Linked DNA regions of Homo sapiens: region 1 is linked to region 2. The links come from fine-mapping of genetic effects on gene expression. A gene starts in region 2. The other region holds a variant in brackets. All regions are shown on one strand. Distances are between the middles of the regions. Region 1 has its middle 5.6 kb from the start of TMEM160. Region 2 holds the start of NPAS1 (neuronal PAS domain protein 1).

Region 1 (4,375 bases), 34 kb before region 2:
GGAGTCTCACACTGTTGCCCAGGCTGGAGTGCAGTGGCACGATCTCGGCTCACTGCAAGCTCTGCCTCCCGGGTTCACACCATTCTCCTGCCTCAGCCTCCCGAGTAGCTGGGACTACAGGCGCCCACCACCATGCCCGGCTAATTTTTTGTATTTTTAGTAGAGACGGGGTTTCACCGCGTTAGCCAGGATGGTCTCGATCTCCTGACCTGGTGATCCGCCCACCTCGGCCTCCCAAAGTGCTGGGATTACAGGCGTGAGCCACTGCTCCCAGCCGTTTTTTTTTTTTTCTTTTTTTGAGACAGAGTCTCACTCTGTCACCCAGGCTGGAGTGCAGTGGCGTGAACTAGGCTCACTGCAAGCTCCACCTCCCGGGTTCATGCCATTCTCCTGCCTCAACCTCCTGAGTAGCTGGGACTACAGGCGCCCACCACCACGCCCGGCTAATTTTTTTTGTATTTTTTAGTAGAGACGGGGTTTCACCATGTTAGCCAGGATGGTCTCGATCTCCTGACCTGGTGATTTGCCCGCCTAGGCCTCCTAGAGTGCTGGGATTATAGGCGTGAGCCACTGCGCCCGGCCATTTTTTTTTTTTTTAAGATGCAGTCTCGGCCGGGCATGGTGGCTCACGCCTGTAATCCCAGCACTTTGGGAGGCTGAGGCGGGCGGATCACGAGCTCAGGAGATCGAGACCATCCTGGCTAACACGGTGAAACCCCATCTCTAGTGAAAATACAAAAAAAATTTAGCTGGGTGTGGTGGCGGGTGCCTGTAGTCCCAGCTACTCGGGAGGCTGAGGCAGGAGAATGGCGTGAACCCGGGAGGCGGAGCTTGCAGTGAGCCGAGACTGTGCCACTGCACTCCAGCCTGGGCGACAGAGCGAAATTCCGTCTCAAAAAAAAAAAAAAAAAAAAAAAGATGGAGTCTCACTCTGTCGCCCAGTCTGGAGTGCAGTGCAGTGGCACTATCTCAGCTCATTGCAACCTCAGCCTCCCAGGTTCAAATTGTCAGGCCTCTGAGCCCAAGCCAAGCCATCGCATCACCTGAGACTTGCAGGTATACATCCAGATGGCCTGAAGTAACTGAAGATCCACAAAAGAAGTAAAAATAGCCTTAACTGATGACATTCCACCATTGTGATTTCTTCCTGCCCCACCTAACTGATCAATGTACTTTGTAATCTCCCCCACCCTTAAGAAGGTTCTTTGTAATTCTCCCCACCCTTGAGAATGTACTGTGTGAGATCCACCCCTGCCCGCAAAACATTGTTCTTAACTTCACCGCCTATCCCAAAACCTCTCAGAACTAATGATAATCCACCACCCTTTGCTGACTCTCTTTTCGGACTCAGCCTGCCTGCAGCCAGGTGAAATAAACAGCCATGTTGCTCACACAAAGCCTGTTTGGTGGTCTCTTCACACGGACGCGCATGAAATTTGGTGCCGTGACTCGGATCGGGGGACCGACCTCCCTTGGGAGATCAATCCCCCATCCTCCTGCTCTTTGCTCTGTGAGAAAGATCCACCTACGACCTCAGGTCCTCAGACAGACCAGCCCAAGAAACAACTCACCAATTTCAAATCCGGTAAGCGGCCTCTTTTTACTCTTTTCCAACCTCCCTCACTATCTCTCAACCTCTTTCTCCTTTCAATCTTGGCGCCACACTTCAATCTCTCCCTTCTCTTAATTTCTATTCCTTTTGTTTTCTGGTAGAGACAAAGGAGACACGTTTTATCTGTGGACCCAAAACTCTGGCGCCGGTCACGGACTGGGAAGGCAGCCTTCCCTTGGTGTTTAATCATTGCAAGGACGCCTCTCTGATTATTCACCCACGTTTCAAAGGTGTCAGACCACGCAGGGACGCCTGCCTTGGTCCTTCATCCTTGGTGGCAAGTCCCGCTTTTCTGGGGGAGGGGCAAGTTCCCCAACCCCTTCTCTGTGTCTCTACCCCTTCTCTGCTTTTCTGGGGAAGGGACAAGTACCCATCAACCCCTTCTCCTTCACCCTTAGTGGCAAGTCCCGCTTTTCTAGGGGTCAAGAACCCCCAATCCCTTATTTCCGCACCCCAACCTCTTATCTCTGTGCCCCAATCCCTTATTTCCATGCCCCGACCCCGCTTCCTGCTTTTCTGGAGGGTAAGAACCCTGAACCCCTTCCCTCCGTGTCTCTACGCTCTCTTTTCTCTGGGTTTGCCTCCTTTACTATGGGCAAACTTCCACCCTCCATTCCTCCTTCTCCCTTAGCCTGTCTTCTCAAGAACTTAAAACCTCTTCAACTCACACCTGACCTAAAACCTAAACGCCTTATTTTCTTCTGCAATGCTGCTTGACCCCAATACAAACTCGATAGTAGTTCCAAATAGCCAGAAAATGGCACTTTGAATTTTTCCATCCTGCAAGATCTAAATAATTCTTGTCATAAAATAGGCAAATGGTCTGAGGTGCCTGACGTCCAGGCATTCTTTTACACATCACAGTCCCTTCCTAGTCTCTGTGCCCAATGCAACTCGTCCCAAATCTTCCTTCTTTCCCTCCCACCTGTCCCCTCAGTCCCAACCCCAAGCGTTGCTGAGT[G/C]TTTCTAATCTTCCTTTTCTACAGACCCAACTGACCTCTCCCCTCCTCGCCAGGCCAAGCTAGGTCCCAATTCTTCCTCAGCCTCCGCTCCTCCACCCTATAATCGTTTCATCACCTCCCCTCCTCACACCCGGTATGGTTTACAGTTTCGTTCCGTGACTAGCCCTTCCCCACCTGCGCAGCAATTTATTCTTAAAAAGGTGGCTGGAGCTAAAGGCATAGTCAAGGTTAATGCTCCTTTTTCTTTATCCCAAATCAGATGGCGTTTAGGCTCTTTTTCTTCAAATATAAAAATCCAGCCCAGTACATGGCTCGTTTGACAGCAACCCTGAGACGCTTTATAGCCCTAGACCCTAAAAGGTCAAAAGGCCGTCTTATTCTCAATATACATTTTATTACCCAATCTGCTCCTGACATTAAATAAAACTCCAAAAATTGGAATCTGGCTCTCAAACCCCACAACAGGACTTAATTAACCTCGCCTTCAAGGTGTACAATAACAGAAAAAAAGTTGCAATTCCTTGCCTCCACTGTGAGACAAACCCCAGCCACATCTCCAGCACGCAAGAACTTCCAAACGCCCGAACCGCAGCAGCCAGGCGTTCCTCCAGAACCTCCTCCCCCAGGAACTTGCTACACATGCTGGAAATCTTGGCCACTGGGCCAAGGAATGCCCGCAGCCTGGGATTCCTCCTAGGCCGCGTCCCATCTGTGTGGGACCCCACTGAAAATCGGACTGTTCAACTCACCTGGCAGCCACTCCCAGAGCCCCTGGAACTCTGGCCCAAGGCTCTCCGACTGACTCCTTCTCGGCTTGGCGGCTGAAGACTGACGCTGCCCGATCACCTCGAAAGCCCCGTAGACCATCACAGACGCCGAGCTTCGAGTAACTATCACAGTGGAAGATAAGTCCGTCCCCTTAATCAATACAGAGGCTACCCACTCCACATTACCTTCTTTTCAAGGGCCTGTTTCCCTTGCTTCCATAACTGTTGTGGGTATTGACAGCCAGGCTTCTAAACCTCTTAAAACTCCCCAACTCTGGTGCCAACTTAGACGATACTCTTTAAAGCACTCCTTTTAGTTATCTCCACCTGCCCAGTTCCCTTATTAGGCCGAGACACTTTAACTAAATCATCTGCTTCCCTGACTATTCCTGGATTACAGCTACATCTCATTGCTGCCCTTCTTCCCAATCCAAAGCCTCCTTTGCGTCCTCCTCTTGTATTCCCCCACCTTAACCCACAAGTATAAGATACCTCTACTCCTTCCTTGGCAACCGATCATGCACCCCTTACCATCTCATTAAAACCTAATCACCCTTACCCTGCTCAATGGGTAAGGCCTTTTAAGCCTATAAACTCTCCTTACAATTCCCCCATTTTACCTGTCCTAAAACCAGACAAGCCTTACAAGTTAGTTCAGGATCTGTGCCTTATCAACCAAATTGTTTTGCCTATCCACCCCATGGTGCCAAACCCATATACTCTCCTATCCTCAATACCTCCCTCCACAACCCATTATTCTGTTCTGGATCTCAAACATGCTTTCTTTACTATTCCTTTGCACCCGTCATCCCAGCCTCTCTTCGCTTTCACTTGGACTGACCCTGACACCCATTAGGCTCAGCAAATTACCTGGGCTGTACTGCCGCAAGGCTTCACAGACAGCCCCCATTACTTCAGTCAAGCCCAAATTTCATCCTCATCTGTTACCTATCTCAGCATAATTCTTCATAAAAACACACGTGCTCTCCCTGCTGATCGTGTCCAATTAATCTCCCAAACCTCAATCCCTTACAA
Region 2 (4,375 bases):
CACCTGATAGGGACACGCAAAGGTCCTGGCTGACTCCAGAGACAAGCATCTGGGCGAGGGCAGGCCCGCAGCCCGGATCTGGGCTGCAGTGACTCCGCCTGGAGGGCCCCGGGACCCTCGCCCCGCGCATGAGCACTCACCGAGGCCAGCTGGCGGCCCCGCGGCTCTCAGCCCCCAGGGCGGCGCCCCCAGCGCGGCGAACCGGCGCAGGCGGAGGTAGGTGACGCTGAGGCGCACGATGGAAGCCTTGTCCAGCTGGCTGGAGATGGCGCCGGGCAGCGGGAGAAGCTTGGCCAGCTCGAAGAACTCCAGGTTCTCCTTCCCGCGCCGCGAGCGCGCCGCGTTCCGGGACTTCTCCTTGCGCTGCGCCTGCAGGCTGGGCGGGCGGCGCGGAGGAGGTGTCGGCGGGGCCCCGGGGCTCAGGGGCTTGGGAACTGGGGGCGAGCCCCGCCTCCCGGGGCCTTGGGAACGGGACGGGACGTTGGGAGTGGATTCCACATCTCTGGAGGTGGGAGCAGACCGGAGTGTGGATTTTACACTCCGACCCAGGGACAGAACCTCGAGTGTCAATTCTGGTGGGAAGGAGGAGGAAGGGCGAGAGATTAAAGATGTTGGGCGTGAATTCTGAGGACCGGGACTAGAAGCAGAACGCAGGGGACCGGGCTCAGGACGGTAGTTAACTCAAGGTAAGACCTTCTAGCCCTAAGGGGCGGGTCAGGGAGCTGGGTGTGAACTGCCCCTTGGCACGGGGACAGAACATCGGGTGTGAATTGGACCCGGGGGGGGGCCCGCGGCCAGGGGGGCGGGGCTTTGCTCACCACGGTCCGGACGGCGCCTTGACCATCAGCCCGGGTAGAAAGTCCCAGGGGACGCTGGCGCCGCGGCCTCCCACGCATTTGACCTCGCTTCCGCCGCCACTGCCGGGATAGGGGGCCGCCATCTCCGGGGGGCTCGCTCAGGCGGGCTCCGAGCCCCGAGTCTCCTGCAGCGGGAGGGGGCCAGGGGCAACGCTTAGTGCCCTCGGGAGACCTTCTAGGGAAACTGAGATCCGTGCAGGGCTCAGGGTCCCAGCAAGGAGCTGGGGGGGGGGGGGCCTGGATGATGCCTCAGTTTCCCCTACCTGGAGGCCTCAGCTCCCACCCTAGCCGGCCCGGGGCTGGCGCTCCGGGTGAGGACGTGCCCCGCCGCCGCCTCCCCCGCGCCGCCCGCCAGCGCGCCCGCCTCACGCCCGCGCCGGGCCGGCTCCCGCATACCAATGGGCGCACGCGGCGCGCATACGGATCGAACCGGCCCGCGCGCTGCGTGCCAAGCATGCCCAAGCCGGGCGGGGGGCGGGCGCCTCCCGGGCCAGGCACGCACGCCCCAGCCCCCGGAGCCCTCTGCCCCGAGGACCCGCCCCCCAAGCCCATCCCCGGTGTCTGACTCCCCGGATCTGCACCCTGTTTTCCCGGCTGGGCTAAGGAGGCAGGGGGCAGAGGGCAGGGACCCCCATCCTGTGTCCTGCCCAGGGATCCCCCCAGCCTCTCGGGATGGCGCCACGTGTTCGGACCGCCACATCCCCACGACCACAACTTCCTCCCTGAAGACCCCGGCGCGCGAGCCCCAGCCCCGGACGCAGCCGCCGCAGCCTCTGCCCCAGGACGCCCCCAGGATTGACCCGACACTCGGGGCCCAGGTGTCCTGGTCTCCTGATCCCCTAACGTTTTCAGTTAGGTCTTCATTCCTCCAGGACCAGGCGTTCAGAACACCCCCTAACCCCAGGAACCAGGCCGCCCCCAAACCTCCCAGCCAGGTGTCCAGATGCCCCAGACCCCCGTGTCCAGGTCTCCCAACCCCAGATTTCTCCAGGACTCAAACATCCGTGCGCCCCTTCCCCCAGGCTCGGGATACCCTCGTCCCACCCCCTATCCCCCAGGACACTGGAGTTCCAGCCCCCCATTCCTCTGGGACCCAGAAGTCCCCCTCCTGCCAGCCCGCAAGCTTCCCCTACCCGCAGGACCGCCAGTCCGATTACTTGGCCGCAGAGCAGGCTCCGGGCGCGGCGTGGGGCCGGCCGGGCGGCGCGGAGGGGCAGCTCCATAGACCCCGGGGCGCGCGGGGCGCAGCGGGACGCGCGGGCTGTGGCGCCCAGCTCTCGGCGCCCACCTCGGCCTCGCAGACTTGGAGACGCGCGACCAGCGCTGCGGGCGGGGGCGGGGTCTGCCGGAGCCCCGCCCGCCGCGTCTCCGCCCCCGGACCCGCCCTGCTCGCCTTTCCCTGGTAGGGGGCCAAGCTACCCTGGGGTCCGAGTTCCCTTGCCCCACGGTAACGTCGGGGGTCAGAATGTAGCACCTCGGATCGGAGCTACCCCACTCCAAAAGGGGAACAGCGGAGTCCGGGCACTGTCTACACCCCTTCAGGAGGCAGTTAGTGCCCCAGCAGCCCCTCGGGACAAGACAGGTACCCTGCAGCCGAGCCCCATGTACGAGTGAAGACTCACGTCAGTGCTTCCTCCAGGGACACAAATCCAGAATTCGAGACCCTCCCTTTCCGGGAGAGAACTCCTGAGTGTCAGCACACTCTCCCCCCACAGGGCTGGGACTTCGCATCCAAACCCAACCCGCCTTAAAAGGGGGACATACACCTCCCTCGTCAGGGACCAGGATCCAGCTCTCTAAGGAGCTCCAGAGACCAGGATCCTGGCGTCTTATCTCCATCCCCCGCCGCAGGGACGGGAACCCTTACATCCAAGCTCCCCATTAGATCATAAATGGGAACTCAGGGGTTGTAGTACCTCGCACAGAGGACGGGAACCCAGGCGTCCAAGCCAGGCCTTCCCCAGTCTGATAGGAGGTCCTACAGTTCCCCTAGCTCCTTCTCTCCATGCAGCCCCCACTTCCCGTTCTCAGGGTCCTCCCTGGCATGGGGGTCTCCAGGCACTTAAAAGCCTCTACATGACCTTAACATGGGGAAAGAAAATGGAGCTGGGGCCGGGCGCGGTGGCTTACACCTATAATCCCAGCACCTTGGGAGGCCAGGGCGGTTGGATCACCCGAGGTCAGGAGTTCAAGGCCAGCCTGGCCAACATAGTGAAACCCTGTCTCTACTAAAAATACAAAAATTAGCCGGGTGTGGTGGTGGGCGCCTGTAATCCCAGCTACTCGGGAGGCTGAGGCAGGAAAATCCCTTGAACCTGGGAGGCGGAGGTTGCAGTGAGCCGAGATCCCGCCACTGCGCTCCAGCCCGGGTCAGAGAAGGAGAGTCCATTTCGAAAGAAAAGAAAAGAAAAAGAAAATGGAGCAGGGAGTCTTAGAAGAGGCATACAGTCAGGGGCTTGCAGGGAGCACGCGCTGGCCTTTGGTTGGGCAGATGGGGAAACTGAGGCACACACAAACACCCGTGTGCATTTGCTCACAACACACAAACTCATTCATGATCCTCATAGTTAACACTTAAGGGAGTGCTTGTTTTTTGCTAATACTTTATTTTATAGCAAGATTCTGAGATGGGCTCTGTTACTAGATGCATTTTACAACTAGGGAAACCGAGACATGGGGAAGTGATATAGCCTGGTGATAGTGGCCTCTCAGACAACAGATCCTTATTTATCCCCAGAGAGACTTGCTAGAGTTTCAGGGCAAGGAATCAAGCTCAGATCATGGGCTCCTGTCTCCTGACAGCACTTCCTGGCTGTGCAGCCTGGGCAGGTGCTATGCCAGCCATGAGAGGTACACTTGTGCCATTAATTAATTAATTAATTATTTTTGAGACACAGTCTTCTCGCTCTGTCACCCAGGCTGCATGATCACTACTCACTGCAGCCTTGAACTCCCAGGCTCAAGAGATTCTCCCACCTAGCCTCCTAAGTGGCTGGGACTACAGGTATGCACCACCCCACCCAGCTATTTTTTAAAAATGTTTTGTTGGCCGGGCGCAGTGGCTCATGCCTGTAATCCCAGCACTTTGGGAGGCTGAGGCGGGTGGATCACCTGACGTCAGGAGTTCAAGACCAGCCTGGCCAACATGGTGAAACCCCATCTCTACTAAAAATACAAAAATTAGCTGGACACAGTGGCGTGCACCTGTAGTCCCAGCTACTCAGGAGGCTGAGGCTGGAGAATCGCTTGAACCTGGGAGGCGGAGGTTGCAGTGAGCTGAGATCACGCCACTATACTCCAGCCTGGCAGACAGAGCGAGACTCCGTCTCAAAAAAAAAAAAAAAGTTTTGTAGAGAGAGGGTCTTGCTATGTTGCCCAGGCTGGTCTTGAACTCCTGGCTTCAAGCAATCCTCCTGCCTCAGCCTCCCAATGTGCTGGGATTATGGCGTGAGCCAGGTCGCCCAGCCTGGCCTGTATTTATTTATGATTGCACATACACACGGATTTTTTTTTTTTTT

Evidence for each region. PIP is the estimated chance that this variant, and not a neighbour inherited with it, causes the effect. A credible set is the group of variants that fine-mapping cannot tell apart.
Region 1: its variant is the best candidate, but not a certain one, in a credible set for the expression of NPAS1 in visceral fat (GTEx, PIP 0.52).

The regions. Positions count from the first base shown.
Region 1 is chr19:47,052,039-47,056,413 of GRCh38, reverse strand. No RefSeq gene overlaps it. Among named protein-coding and RNA genes, the nearest start is that of TMEM160, 5.6 kb to the right of the region's middle. RefSeq lists an enhancer at 1,365-1,921. The variant G/C (reference allele first, on the strand shown) is at 2,574.
Region 2 is chr19:47,017,613-47,021,987 of GRCh38, reverse strand. NPAS1 (neuronal PAS domain protein 1) reads right to left here and starts at 2,151. Exons shown (of 12, transcript NM_002517.4): 1 at 1,991-2,151; 2 at 819-982; 3 at 141-376. The coding sequence starts at 940. RefSeq lists a silencer at 2,155-2,214.